Linked DNA regions of Homo sapiens: all the other regions are reported to be linked to region 4. Evidence: microRNA targets listed by miRTarBase, many of them from high-throughput screens and not tested one by one. Region 4 holds a microRNA gene; each other region holds the end of a gene's coding sequence.

The links. The annotated mature microRNA hsa-miR-1827 reads UGAGGCAGUAGAUUGAAU and lies in region 4 at 2,057-2,074, shown strand. An mRNA with a match to its seed (bases 2 to 7 or 8) in the 3' UTR can be bound and repressed. Matches are read on the target gene's strand: a 7mer-m8 pairs with bases 2 to 8, a 7mer-A1 pairs with bases 2 to 7 and ends in A, and an 8mer does both.
Region 1: the mRNA of RABAC1 is a reported target of hsa-miR-1827. The part of its 3' UTR that is shown has no 7-base or 8-base seed match.
Region 2: miRTarBase lists FAM118A as a target of hsa-miR-1827. Seed matches in the 3' UTR shown: 8mer at 938-945.
Region 3: the mRNA of TES is a reported target of hsa-miR-1827. Seed matches in the 3' UTR shown: 8mer at 1,217-1,224.

What each region holds. Positions count from the first base shown.
Region 1 is chr19:41,954,156-41,957,272 of GRCh38, forward strand. RABAC1 (Rab acceptor 1) reads right to left here. Exons shown (of 5, transcript NM_006423.3): 4 at 2,863-2,964; 5 at 2,528-2,779. The coding sequence ends at 2,691. Among named protein-coding and RNA genes, the nearest start is that of RABAC1, 3.6 kb to the right of the region's middle.
Region 2 is chr22:45,339,976-45,343,107 of GRCh38, forward strand. FAM118A (family with sequence similarity 118 member A) reads left to right here. Exons shown (of 9, transcript NM_017911.4): 9 at 411-1,980. The coding sequence ends at 430. Among named protein-coding and RNA genes, the nearest start is that of FAM118A, 32 kb to the left of the region's middle.
Region 3 is chr7:116,257,004-116,260,135 of GRCh38, forward strand. It overlaps TES (testin LIM domain protein), which reads left to right. Exons shown (of 7, transcript NM_015641.4): 7 at 291-1,780. The coding sequence ends at 479. It overlaps LOC124901730 (a long non-coding RNA gene), which reads right to left and starts at 301. Exons shown (of 4, transcript XR_007060485.1): 1 at 1-301.
Region 4 is chr12:100,187,876-100,191,007 of GRCh38, forward strand. It overlaps MIR1827 (microRNA 1827), which reads left to right and starts at 2,009; the gene lies at 2,009-2,074.

The sequences.
Region 1 (3,117 bases), not on the chromosome of region 4:
TGCTGGGATTACAGGTGTGAGCCACCATGCCCAGCCTATAAAAATTATTGAGATATTTTACTCCATTTTCATACTAAATCTTCGAAGTCTGGTGTGCATTTCACACTCATAGCATGTCTCAGTTTGGACCAGCCATGTTTGAGGCAGCCGCATATGGCTGGCCACCATATCTGACAGGAGAATTCCAGAACAGTGGGCATCAGTGGGCTCTGGGTGAGCACCTGCTGCATCAAGGATGAGTGGGTGAGTTCTGCTGAGGAGACACGAGGTTGGAGAGGCTGCATCCCTGAGGCCTTGGCACTCGCTGTCCCTCTCCTTGGGAAACTCCACCCACTTCTTGTGTCTCCTCAGAGAGCCCTCCCAGACCACCCCTATCTAAAGTAATTGGCGGGGCACGGTGGCTCACACATGTAATCCTAGCACTTTGGGAGGCCAAGACAGGTGGATCACCTGAGGTCAGGAGTTCGAGACCAGCCTGGGCAACACAGTGAAACCCTGTCTCTACCAAAAATACAAAAAAATCAGCCGGGCGTGGTGGCAGGCGCCTGTAATCCCAGCTACTCGGGAGGCTGAGGCAGGAGAATCACTTGAAACCGGGAGGTGGAGGTTGCAGTGAGTCGAGATCGCGCCATTGCACTCCAGCATGGGCAACAAGAGCGAAACTCCATCTCAAAAAAATTAAAAAATAAAACTAAAAATACAAAAATTAGTCAGGCGTGTTGGTGGGCACCTATAATCCCAGCTACCTGGGAGGCTGAGGCAGGAGAATAGCTTGAATCTTGGAAGTGGAGGTTACAGTGAGCCGAAATCACACCATTGCTCTCCAGCGTGGGCGACAGAGAGAGACTCCATCTCAAAAAAATAAACAAATAAATAAAAATAAAAAAATCAAGTCACTTCTTAGGCCCTCTCGGCCACCTCCCTTGTCTTCATCTGCCTGGCACTTTCCCTCCCAAGTGTGTTTCTCTTTTGTTACTGCTACCACGTGGCAGTCTCCACCTCATGATGAAAGGCAAACTGGACCCGGCACGGTGGCTCATGCCTGTAATCCCAGAACTTTGAGAGGCTGAGGCAGGAGGATTGCTTCAGCCCAGGAGTTTGAAACCAGGCCAGGCAACATAGTGAGACCCTGTCTAATGAAAAGTTAAAAAAAATTAGCTGGGTGTGGTGGCGTGCACCTGTGGTCCCAGCTGCTCAGGAGGCTGAGGTGGGAGGCTCACTTGAGCCCAAGAGGTAGATGCTGCAGTGAGCAGTGGTCACACCACTGCACTCCAGCCTGGGCCATAAAGTGAGACCCTGTCTCAAAAAAACAAAAGGCAAGAAGCAAACTGGGCTGGACACAGTGGCTCACACCAGTAGTCCCAGCACTATGGGAGGCTGCAGGGGGAGAATCGCTTGAGCCCAGGAATTTGAGACCAGCCTGGGAAACAAAGCAAAATCCATCTCACAAAAGCAAACTGTGTCTTTCATCTCAAGCAGAGTAAAACCCAAAGCCCTCACCGTGGCCCACAAGGCTCCCTGGCCTCCCACACTGTCCCCCTCGCTTATCTGCCCCAGCCACGCCCACCTCCTGGCTGCCCTCGAGCCTCCTGGCTGCTGCCATCTCCCAGGCTATGCCCCTGTGGCTTCCTCTGCCCCAATTATTCTTCCTCCAAAGGATCTGGGCTGCTCCCTCTCTCAATTTAGGTCTTTGGTGAATGTCACGTCAGGGAGGCCTTTTCTGGTCACCCTCTTTAACCCACAACTCATTCCCGAACTTTCTCTGTGCAGAAAAGAGTTAACCTGGCAGGCTCCACAACAGACTGCTGTCCTTAGACAGGCCTGGGTGCACAGTTGGTCCTTGGCTGGGAACTTGGGTGTTGGGGGGGGGGTCTTATCACTTCCTGATAGAGTGGCTCGCTGCATCTATCTAGGCTGTTCGTGCAGGCCTAGAGTGGCTTGCTGCATCTATCTAGGCTGTTCGTGCAGGCACAGGCCTTCTTTCTGGGAGCCTGGCATTTTGGTATATGTTGGAGAGAAGGTGCTCTTGTGGCCGCCCCCATGAAACCAAGGGCGCTGAGGCTAGGATCAGAGTGTCCCTGGCTGACATTTCACACGTCACCATGATCCACTGCTGGAGGAATTAGGTGTGGCCTCTGGAAGTGCATGCCTGGTTTCCCGAGTTCACTCCATGCACCTTTCCTTTTGGCTGACTTGGCTCCATACCCTTTGATGAGAGTAAATCAGAGCTGTGAGTGCAATTGCATACTGAGTCCCCAGTCCCAGAGAACCATCAAACCTGGGGTGCTCTCTGATTCCTGAGTCCTAAAGAACCATCAAACCTGGGGGTGGTCTCGGGGACCCCCGGCACACTGTCCTTCTCAACTCTTTTCTCCTCCTGAACACTCACCACCATTGGGCATCCCATAATATTTTACCTGTTTACCTTGTCATCGTCTTGCCCACACCCCAGGTTCCACCCCAACCCTGCTCTGTGCAGTATTCCCAGCTCCACCCATAGAGACCCACAGAAGATGCTGGGGGAATATTTCCTGAATGACACCCATAACAGCTTTATTTTCAAAGGCGGGATCCCTCCCCGGGCTTGTGATGGGACGGCGCTGTGGGCCCGAGCAGCAGAGCCGTGCAGGACAGGCATGGGCAGGGGTGGGGCAGCTGGCCCGGGAGGCCGGCAGGTCCCAGAAGACACCTCACACGGGTTCCATCTGCAGCTCCTCCCCGTCCACAGCCTCAATCTGGTGGAAGGCAGCGTGGGAGCCGATGACCACCAGGGTGGCTCCTGCAGGAAAGCCGGCAGCTCAGGGCCACACTCCTGCACCTGGCTCCCACCATCCACCCCAGCTGCTCAGACCCTGTACTCACCCAGCACCCAGAAGACGGCCGAGCCCGCACCAGCCAGCCAGAAGAAGGGGAAGGAGATGCCTCCAGCCAGAGCATACTGATGCGCTGGGCTCACCTCTCGGCCTGGGGGCAGATGGCATTGGGGTGCTGTTCCGACTCTCCATGCCCTCTCCCAGAGTAACCCCTGCTGCCCCCCAACAATCCGTACAAGCTCCAGGTTCTCGGGATCGAATCCAAACTCCTCATGCCAAGGCCCTCCAGGTCCTGGGGTCACCC
Region 2 (3,132 bases), not on the chromosome of region 4:
GAAAGCCCTGGCCTGTCCTGCATGTGGGTGAGAGAAGCCAAGCCTGGGGATCCCAGAGGAATCGACAGGCTTATTCTTCTCCATACCTCCAACAGGCTCTCACTGTATGTTTGTTGAAATTGCCCCATCCTCAGTCCACTAAGAAATAAAAGAGCATCCATGTTCATGGATTGAGATTCCCACAGATCGTTGCAAATGTAATGTCATCATTTGCTTGATCCCCTGATAGTACTGATAATTACACAAGGTCATTTCCAGACAGTGGCTACTGTTTCCATTGTGGAGGGGTTTTCAAAGTCTTCCGTACATAAGAACAATTGTAAAGCAGTTTCTGAAATAGAAATCTATTGCAAATAACTTCTTTTAGCTGGACTTTAACCCTTGGGCATTTCATTCTTTTATTTAAACAGATGATGCTGGAGGGTCTTGAAATCTTTACAGTAAAACCTGCAACTTGAAAACTAGCCTTCTGTAACCACAGTGCCCAAACGAAGAGGAATGTATGGAGAACTCCACGTGGATCTCTGATTGCGAAACCGTCACATACACCAAGAGAGCCACATGGGCATGTGGCCCTCAAGGCTGGGTGAGAGGGCTCCCCTGTGTGTTGAACTATGCAGGAGGGTGACGCGGACACATTTCAGGTGGACTTTGCAAGGACTGATGGATAGCTACCTCAGGGACCAGAATCCGTGGGAAGGGATGGACCTGGTGTTCCCGTTCCCATCTGACAGGCTCTCTTTTGTCAAGGTGGTATTTTTCGTAATAAAAGGGGAAGAGTAAAGACTGTCCAAGCAACAGTAGCTGCCAAAGAGAAAATACGAAATAGACACTTTTTTTTTTTGAGTCAGAGTCTCACTCTGTCACCCAGGACAGAGTGCAGTGGTACGATCTCAAGCTCACTGCAGCCACCACCGCCTGGGCTCAAGTGATTCTCCTGCCTCAGCCTCCCGAGTAGCTGGGATTACAGGCGTCCACCACCATGCCCAGCTAATTTTTTTATTTTTAGTAGAGTTGGAGTTTCACCATGTTGGCCAGGATGGTCTCGAACTCTTGACCTCAGGTGATCCACCCGCCTTGGCCTCCCAAAGTGCTAGGATTACAGGCATGAGCCACTGCGCCCAGCAAAATAAACACATTTTATAATTTGTATGTGGAAACATGTTACTATAGAAAGCATTTTAAAGGTACGTTTTAAAGGTCCACTGTTAAATAGTAAAGAATGAATCCGCTAGCGAAAATGTTTTTAGGGAGAACAGCTGGATCAAAAGGGCTTCTTTGGAATTAGGTTGTTTTAGTAACTTCTGTTCCAAAGAAACACAGGTCTGATATTGCTAAGAACTGAAATCGGAGGAGCCAGAGGCCCTTTTCAGTCCAGGCCAACATTGTGCACGGCCACTGTGGGACTGACAACCGGGATAGCTCAAGTTCGAGAGACCAGGTTTCAAACATTATAAGTTCCAGGCTTTGCAAGTCTTTATTCTCTGGGGTAATATCCAGTCTTTCTGTTATTGTCTCTTAAAATTCTCTTCCATGGCCCACATTAAGGGAGTTTGCAGAGAGTGAGGGAGGCAAAACTTGAAAAGGGCCTGCAACACTTTAAACCTTCTCAGGTTCACCCACATGAAACGGCTGTGCTGAGTGTGCTGCCGGTGCCCGGGGAGCTTCTCTGACTGTGACCCGGCAGAGGCTTCTGTGGCGGTGCATGAGCGGCCCTACAGTGGAGGGTTCTCTTTGGAAACAAACAGCCCTGCTTGGTTTCAGTTTGAGGCCACTTATCTTCAATGTGACATTTCTTGCCAAGCCCTGTGACACTCCCCATTGATGACTCCCATAGGTACAGATAAAGTTAAGAACAGGAAACAGAAGGGTAGGATGCATAGGGAGGGAGAGAAGCCCTGAAAACTTTTTTTTTCTTTTTGAAGCATGGAAAACAAATCTTTTATGCCACTCCAGCCATAAATAAAATTTTAACTTCAACCCTGTGTGCTCAGTGTTTCTTTAGTTATGCCAAGGCTTGCTAGAATGTTATTTAGTGAGAATTTTTAGCTTGAGTTGCCACCCAACTGTGAAATCAACTAAATGATTACTTGAATGTATTTAAATGTTTTAAAAAGCAAACATTATAAATTTTTCTTTAATGTCATTTAGTAAGTGCAGTCAGGGAATATCTGAATCTAAGAGCTGGCCAGACACAGGGTATAGCAGAATTACAAGCATAGAGGATGCTATGCAGTAGGATGTAAAGCTCATTACAGCCCATTTTTAAGAAAAGCTTTGTGTGCTCTGCTGGAGGACACAGCCATGTTGCTGCACCACATGGATGTATCTAGTCAGTTCTGTTGTATGCTCGTTGTAGAATGTAAAGTTTATTCCAATCCGATTGATAGATTAAAGGCAATTCCAGCATAGTGCACTTGCTTGTGTATAGTTTAGTCCGTGAGAAACATCACATCAGGAGGTAACAAAGTTGGCCCTGCTGTTTACTGCCTCAAGCTAGAGTAGCTATTACATTTTAAAATGGTTATATTTTAAGACAGGGCAGGTAGCTCAAACCTGTAATCCCAGCACTTTGGGAGGCTGAGGGGGGCGGATCACTTGAGGCCAGGAGTTTGAGACCAGCCTGGCCAACATGGTGAAACCCTGTCTCTACTAAAAATACAAAAATTAGCCTGGCGTGGTGGCGTGTGCCTGTAATCCCAGCTACTTGGGAGACTGAGGCAGGAGAATCACTTGAACCAAGGAGGCAGAGGTTGCAGTGAACCAAGATTGCACCACTGCACTCCAGCCTGGGCGACAGAGGGAATTCCATCTAAAAAAAAATAAAAATAAAATGGTTACATTTTAAATAGTTATACAAGTACCTGCTAAGAACCTCCTTACTATCTCAACAAAGCCTGAATATGTGCTGTGGCCCTTAAATTAGGTTACTGGGCATGCTCTGTTATATCAGAAATGACTGAACTTGGTGGGATCACTGACAGTCTATAAGTCAAAGTTATGAAAGAGAACAGCCAAGCGCGGTGGCTCACGCCTGTAATCCCAGCACTTTGAGAGGCTGAGACGGGTGGATCACTTAAGGCCAGGAGTTCGAGACCAGCCTGGCCAATGTAGTGAAACCCTGTCTCTACT
Region 3 (3,132 bases), not on the chromosome of region 4:
CTGCTTTGGAACTTCCCATCAAGACTTTCTGCCTTGAATGCCATGAAGTTATCTTACATGCATCAAATCACCTGTTTGGCCTTCACTCGTTATTTCTCAGGCTGCTCAGAATATTGACCTCCATTAACAGTTGGCCAAAAAGGTTAGCTAGAAGGCCACCCTCCATTGTGTATTTCTGAGGTTGTCATTATGAGTTTTAATTTATCATCTAAAGAAATATGTCCTAAGATGAAAATGTTACCATTACAGCTTGATCTCTCACCCTCTTCTCTTGTATTATTTCTTAATAGGTGTGTCAAGGATGCCACAATGCCATCGACCCAGAAGTGCAGCGGGTGACCTATAACAATTTCAGCTGGCATGCATCCACAGAGTGCTTTCTGTGCTCTTGCTGCAGCAAATGCCTCATTGGGCAGAAGTTCATGCCAGTAGAAGGGATGGTTTTCTGTTCAGTGGAATGTAAGAAGAGGATGTCTTAGGAGGAGGGCACCCAGAAGTATCGAGCCATAGCTATCCAAAGTGGTCTGCATTTCTACTGTAAAATGCAATTTGAAAAAAATAAAACGCAAAAAAAGAAACTGTAAAGGAAACCAAGAGATTTTGTTTAATTTTTTTGGCCATTTTTTCTTCATCAATTTTTTTTCGGTCTCAACTTTTAAACTTGGTTTAAGCATTTGATTTGTAAAACAGTAAATAATTGTATCTTTCCATAGCTTTTCAAATGTGAAATCATTTTTGGAAGCTTGGATCTCATTAAACTTCATGTCTCTATTCCATTTGTGCCACACACTTAAAAGTTAGTGTACTGAATGGAAAGATGAGCATTCCTAGTTCTACACTTCTTTTTTCCCCCTCATGTGTAAAATGAAAAGAAAACTAAATTTGCCCTAATACCAAGGCGCTACGTTTATTGCCTCGTCTTATTCACTGACCTTTGTAATGATACACAGTGAATTCTTTTTGACAAAGAGAAATGCAGTGTAGTATGCAGAGCTGCTGTTTTAATGCCTATGCATTTACTCTTTCCTGATTTAGGCAGAGGTGGCATTTTCTTTATTGCATTTCTCTATTTTTTTAATGTACCCTACCTTCAGTATTCTCTTTGTAAGTTGGTGACTTGCATCTGTGGCCTTGAATATTTTATTATCACATGTGGCATAACAGTATCCACACTTTTTAGTTCTTTATTTTTTTTTTTTTATTTTGAGCAATTCTCCTGCCTCAGCCTCCCAAATAGCTGGGATTACAGGTGCATGCCACCACACCCAGCTAATTTTTGTATTTTTAGTAGAGACAGGTTTTCACCATGTTAGCCAGGCTGGTCTCAAACTCCTGACCTCAGATGATCCGCCTGCCTTGGCCTCCCAAAGTGCTGGGATTACAGGTGTGGGAGCCACCATGCCTGACCCACACACTTTTTACTTGTATAGATGATTTTTGGCTTGGACATAAAAGCCAAGCCACCCATTTGCTTTTAATCCAAAGAACATGTATAGTTTTTGTACCCAGAGACTATGATTTATATTGATTGCACTTGCCTGCCATGATTTAGATAAGATTTTTTTTGCATGGTTTTTATTCTTTCCTAATGGATCCTGTTTTATAATACTTCCAAGCCTGTCCATGGATATATCAAATGTCTTCACTTGTATATTTTCATGGCTAGGTATTTCTAATGTTTATTCTTCCCTGTGTACTTCTACACATAGCTATGCACTATGAAAATTAAATGGAATGAATGATATGTATATTACTCAAAATAAAGTTTCTTTCACTTTAATAATCATTGTATCTTTTTATTCATATCCTTTTTTGAGTGAAAAATGCTTCTGCAACTAAGCATGTGTTACAGCAGGGGGCGATGTCTCCAAGGATAAAAATTACCCAAACGAAAATAAAAGTCTGCCTCTGACAGGACAGCACAGAATCTAGATGTTTCATTATGGAGAAAAGATAAGGTTTATGAAACTTTCAAATCAGGACTTTTAAGTTTGGTCATGCAAGAGTTTTTTTCTTTTTCAAAGAAAGGGAAAGTAATTTTAATTAAAATTTGGGAGAGCTTATTTTCTATTCAGTTGGATCTAACAAGCCTTTTATACTTGGGTTTCAACTCTGGTTTCTTTATATGTAAAAAATATTAAAAGAAGAATTTTTTCATGGAAACTTATCGTGAGACAGAAAGCAAATGGGGAATAGTGGTAGACTCATGCTTCCTAATGTTAGCAGGCCATAATACTTTCTCCCTCAGTCTACAATTATTTCTGTCATAGTGGGAGTTGCAGTTTTCTCTGATACATACCCAGAATAACTTGACTTTTTTTTTTTTCCAGCTCCTGTTTGGCCAATAGTACTTCTCTTTACATTCCACCTCTCCACTCCCCACCACCACACACACATGCACATGTGCATACCAAGCATACAAATTTACTCCTTCTGCACTATGCCTTCAACCATGCAAAAGTAACTTTTGGAGCTTGGATACGTGTCACCTTATCTAAAGTAATCTAATTCTGCATATAATTTTAGAAGCTAATATCACAAGTATCATTACTGTCTATAAAGATCGCTTTATGGTTGCTCATATCTTTATCTTAAATGGCAACAAATATATTTTCCACAGCATATTGTCCACAAAGTTGTACAACTTAACTTTTCCCAGACATGGCTAAGTGAGAATAAACTGAAACAGAACCCATCTGCTACTAACACGGCCAATCCCTTAGGAAATCTGGATTGCTCTTGAGACATACTAGCCTTCATATTTGTTGCATGGTACCTACATATCTCCCTTTCCTCCTTCCTTTTTTTTTTTTTTTTTTTTTTTGAGGTGGGGGGGGCGGCAAATGAGTTAGGGATTATTCTTTCTTTTCATTGACTAGCTGAAACTTCTATTACTGAAGTCTTCAAGCATAGATTTCCAAATTTGACTTTGAAGTATTTCAGCCCAATTTCACCAAAGGCAAGGGATTCATCACTGATTCATTCTCAAGGAATTTCCAACACATAGCGTTTAAGCTTATACAACTTCACCGTAGTTACCAAAGAGACACCAACACCCAAGATCAGTATTCAGCCTTTGTCTTGAGATGCCTTGGCATATCTGAACTTGTCTTCTGGGTATTCACTTAATTC
Region 4 (3,132 bases):
GCACAGCCTCAAATAAACCAAACATCTAAGAAACAATACTCTTGTTGTAGAACTTTCAGACAGGTACAGCTCCACTGGTTCCCTACTGCCCAAAGGGCAGACACCCCCACCCCTTCACCCTGGGCTCCCTGGCCTCCTCAGCTCCTCTTCTATCCTCACCCCCTTAAGCACCCTATGCACCTGGCATGAGAACCCATGCCACTTGTGAGACACACCCTGTTCTGACTTCCTTGCCTCTGCATGGGTGTCCTTGAACTTACATTTCCCTTTGGCCAGTCCCTCTCCATCGCTCAAGCCCTTTAAGTCAAAACTCGTCTTCAGAGCAAAACCATCACTAGCCTCTCCCAAAACCCACACCGCAAAGAATAAGCCATTTCTTCCTGGTGCACCCAGGGAGGCTGTGACATGCTGGGTTCAGCCTTGAACTGCACCCTACGGCACCTGTGGCAGAGGACTCACAGGCCTTGCCTGCCTGTCTTCCTGAGAACCCTTCAAACTGCTGAAGGCAGGGAGGGACAGCCTCTTACCCAAGGGAACAACCTCAGCCCCATCCCACAGTGAGGGGGAGAGGAAAATGCAGCAGGGAGGGAGGGAGCACCAGCTGCACAGCCAGGCAGTCCTGCAGAATGGGCTTCTCTAAACTTGAGTGGTGACCCACTGTGGGCCAGGATATCAAATTAAGAAGATAAGAAGTCAATTTTGAGGGGACAAGCATTTTTTTTAGTATTAAAAGAGAAAATAGTACTTAGCTTTACTATATGTAGCAGTGACATTTTTCTTTCAGTTTTATGTACATACTGACAGTATACATTTACATACAAAGGTGTATTATCTGCTGTCGGTTCCCAGTCAAAAAAGTGAACAACACTGTGTCCGAAGGTAACATCCTTCCCAGTGTCCAGAATTGGTTCCTTCTGGTGGGTTCTTAGTCTCGCCAACTTCAAGAATGAAGCTGCAGACCTTTGCGGTGAGTGTTGCAGCTCTTAAAGGTGGCACGGACCCAAAGAGTGAGCAGCAGTAAGATTTATGATGAAGAGCGAAAGAACAAAGGTTCCACAGCATGGAAGGGGACCCGAGCAGGTTGCCGCTGCTGGGTGGGGTGGCCAGCTTTTATTCCCTCATTTGTCCCTGCCCACATCCTGCTCATTGGTCCATTTTACAGAGCGCTGATTGGTCCATTTTACAGAGTGCTGATTGATCCATTTTACAGAGTACTGATTGGTGTGTTTACAATCCTTTAGCTGGACACAGAGCACTGATTGGTGCGTTTTTACAGAGTGCTGATTGGTGCATTTACAATCCTTTAGCTAGACACAGCGCTGACTGGTGTGTTTACAATCCTCTAGCTAGACAGAAAAGTTCTCCAAGTCCCCACTCGACCCAGGAAGTCCAGCTGGCTTCACCTCCCACCAGGAGGCCAAACAAAAAGGACAGTGCTGAGAGGAACCATCGTCCTGCTAGGGAAGGGAGTGTGGCACAAAGGCAGGTGGGTGTGGGCAGACCCCCCCTGCCACGGGTGTGCAGGGCAGAGGATGATGAGCCCCAAGCAGCAGGAGCAGGAGCAGTAGAGCAACTCTGCCCCTGAAAGGGTCTGGAGCCTTCCCTCATCACTCTTCCTCAAGTCGATGCTGGACACCCACTATGTACCAGGCCGTGTGAGGCACTGGGGTAAACCAGAGACAAGACAGACAGGGTCCCTGCCCCATGGAGCTCCCAGCCTTGCAAGGGAGCTAGACCACAGATGAGTACACAAAGAAATACAGTAACTACAGGCAGTGGTAAGGGCTGTGAAGGAGAAGCACGGCAGTGAGGAATGGGAGGAACAGGGAAGGCTTCTCTGAAGAACGAACAGAAGTAACCAGAGAAGAGACAGCCCGCCCTGCAAAGGGACAGCCTGAGGCAGGGCCTGTCGGGAAGACAATACATCTGAAGAACTGCAAGAAGTCAAGTGGGCCTGCAACAGAGGAAATGACAGGAGTCAGACCCCATGGGACCCTGAAGGCCATGTTCAGCAGCACAGCCTTCAGCCTAAAGCAATGAGAAGCCTCTGAAAGGCTGAGGCAGTAGATTGAATTGATTCAGGTCCCTTAGAATTGGGTCCCTGCAACAGGTGGACCCAGGACCGGCAGAGAATGCAGATAGGCGCCCCTCCTCAGCCCCCAACTCTAAATATAACAGAAGACATGGCTCAGTTGCTCCCTTGGTGGCCCTGGACAAGACAGGCTGAAGTTCTCTGAGCCTCCGCTTCCCATGCTGAGTCATGGTGAAAGGTCTCTGAGTCTACAGGCCAAAGCCACTGCTCCTCTCATGACTGCAGTGATTTCCATGGACAGTGTTATGCAACGGCGGCCCTTCTGATACGTGGGGCCCTGGGAGCGTGTGAACTGATCGAGACCAAGAGGACTGATGGGACACAACTGCTAAGCACAACCTCATGCTCCTGGGAGCTATCAAAGAAGACCAGGCACCAATGCAGCAACACACACACACAGCCCAGCCAACTTCCCGCAACTGCTGAAACTCCACGGGCCCAAAAGCAAGTCGCCTTCCTTCCTGCTTCCTTCTCTAGAAGGTCTGGCTTTAAAAATGTCACTGTGAGGCAGCAGCATGGTGACTACATGCCTTGTCTTTCTTGGCAGACAGAGCCATGCCTTCCAACGAGGAAAATTACAAATACCACGTTATGGCTCCTGGACAGGAACAACTTCTCCCAATTCACCAAACATCTGTGTGCCTGCTTTGAGCTGGTTTGCGCCCTCTGCTGCAAACAGGGGCTGAAGAGACGAGTCACTGTCACGACTTTAGAGTCCTAGACACTAAAACCATAATAGATTCTTGGGAACCCCCGCCGTGCTCACAGATAACTCTTTCTACCAGGCCTGAGTGGGTCAAGAATGAAGCAAAAACTAAGAGTCAGAGCAGGGCCAACTGCAGGGCCCGCAGAAGACCTGTGGGAGGGAGGCCTGGAAGGAAGAGCACACCTTCCCGGCCAGCTCAGCCCTCACAACTGCCCTTGAGAAAGGCACCCTGTCCACTCCACCCAAGGGAGTGGAGACACACTTCACCTACTGGCTCAAAAGAGTCAGAGGGGCAACAGTGGCAGCAATGCCAGCAGGCCTGGGGTGTGTAGCC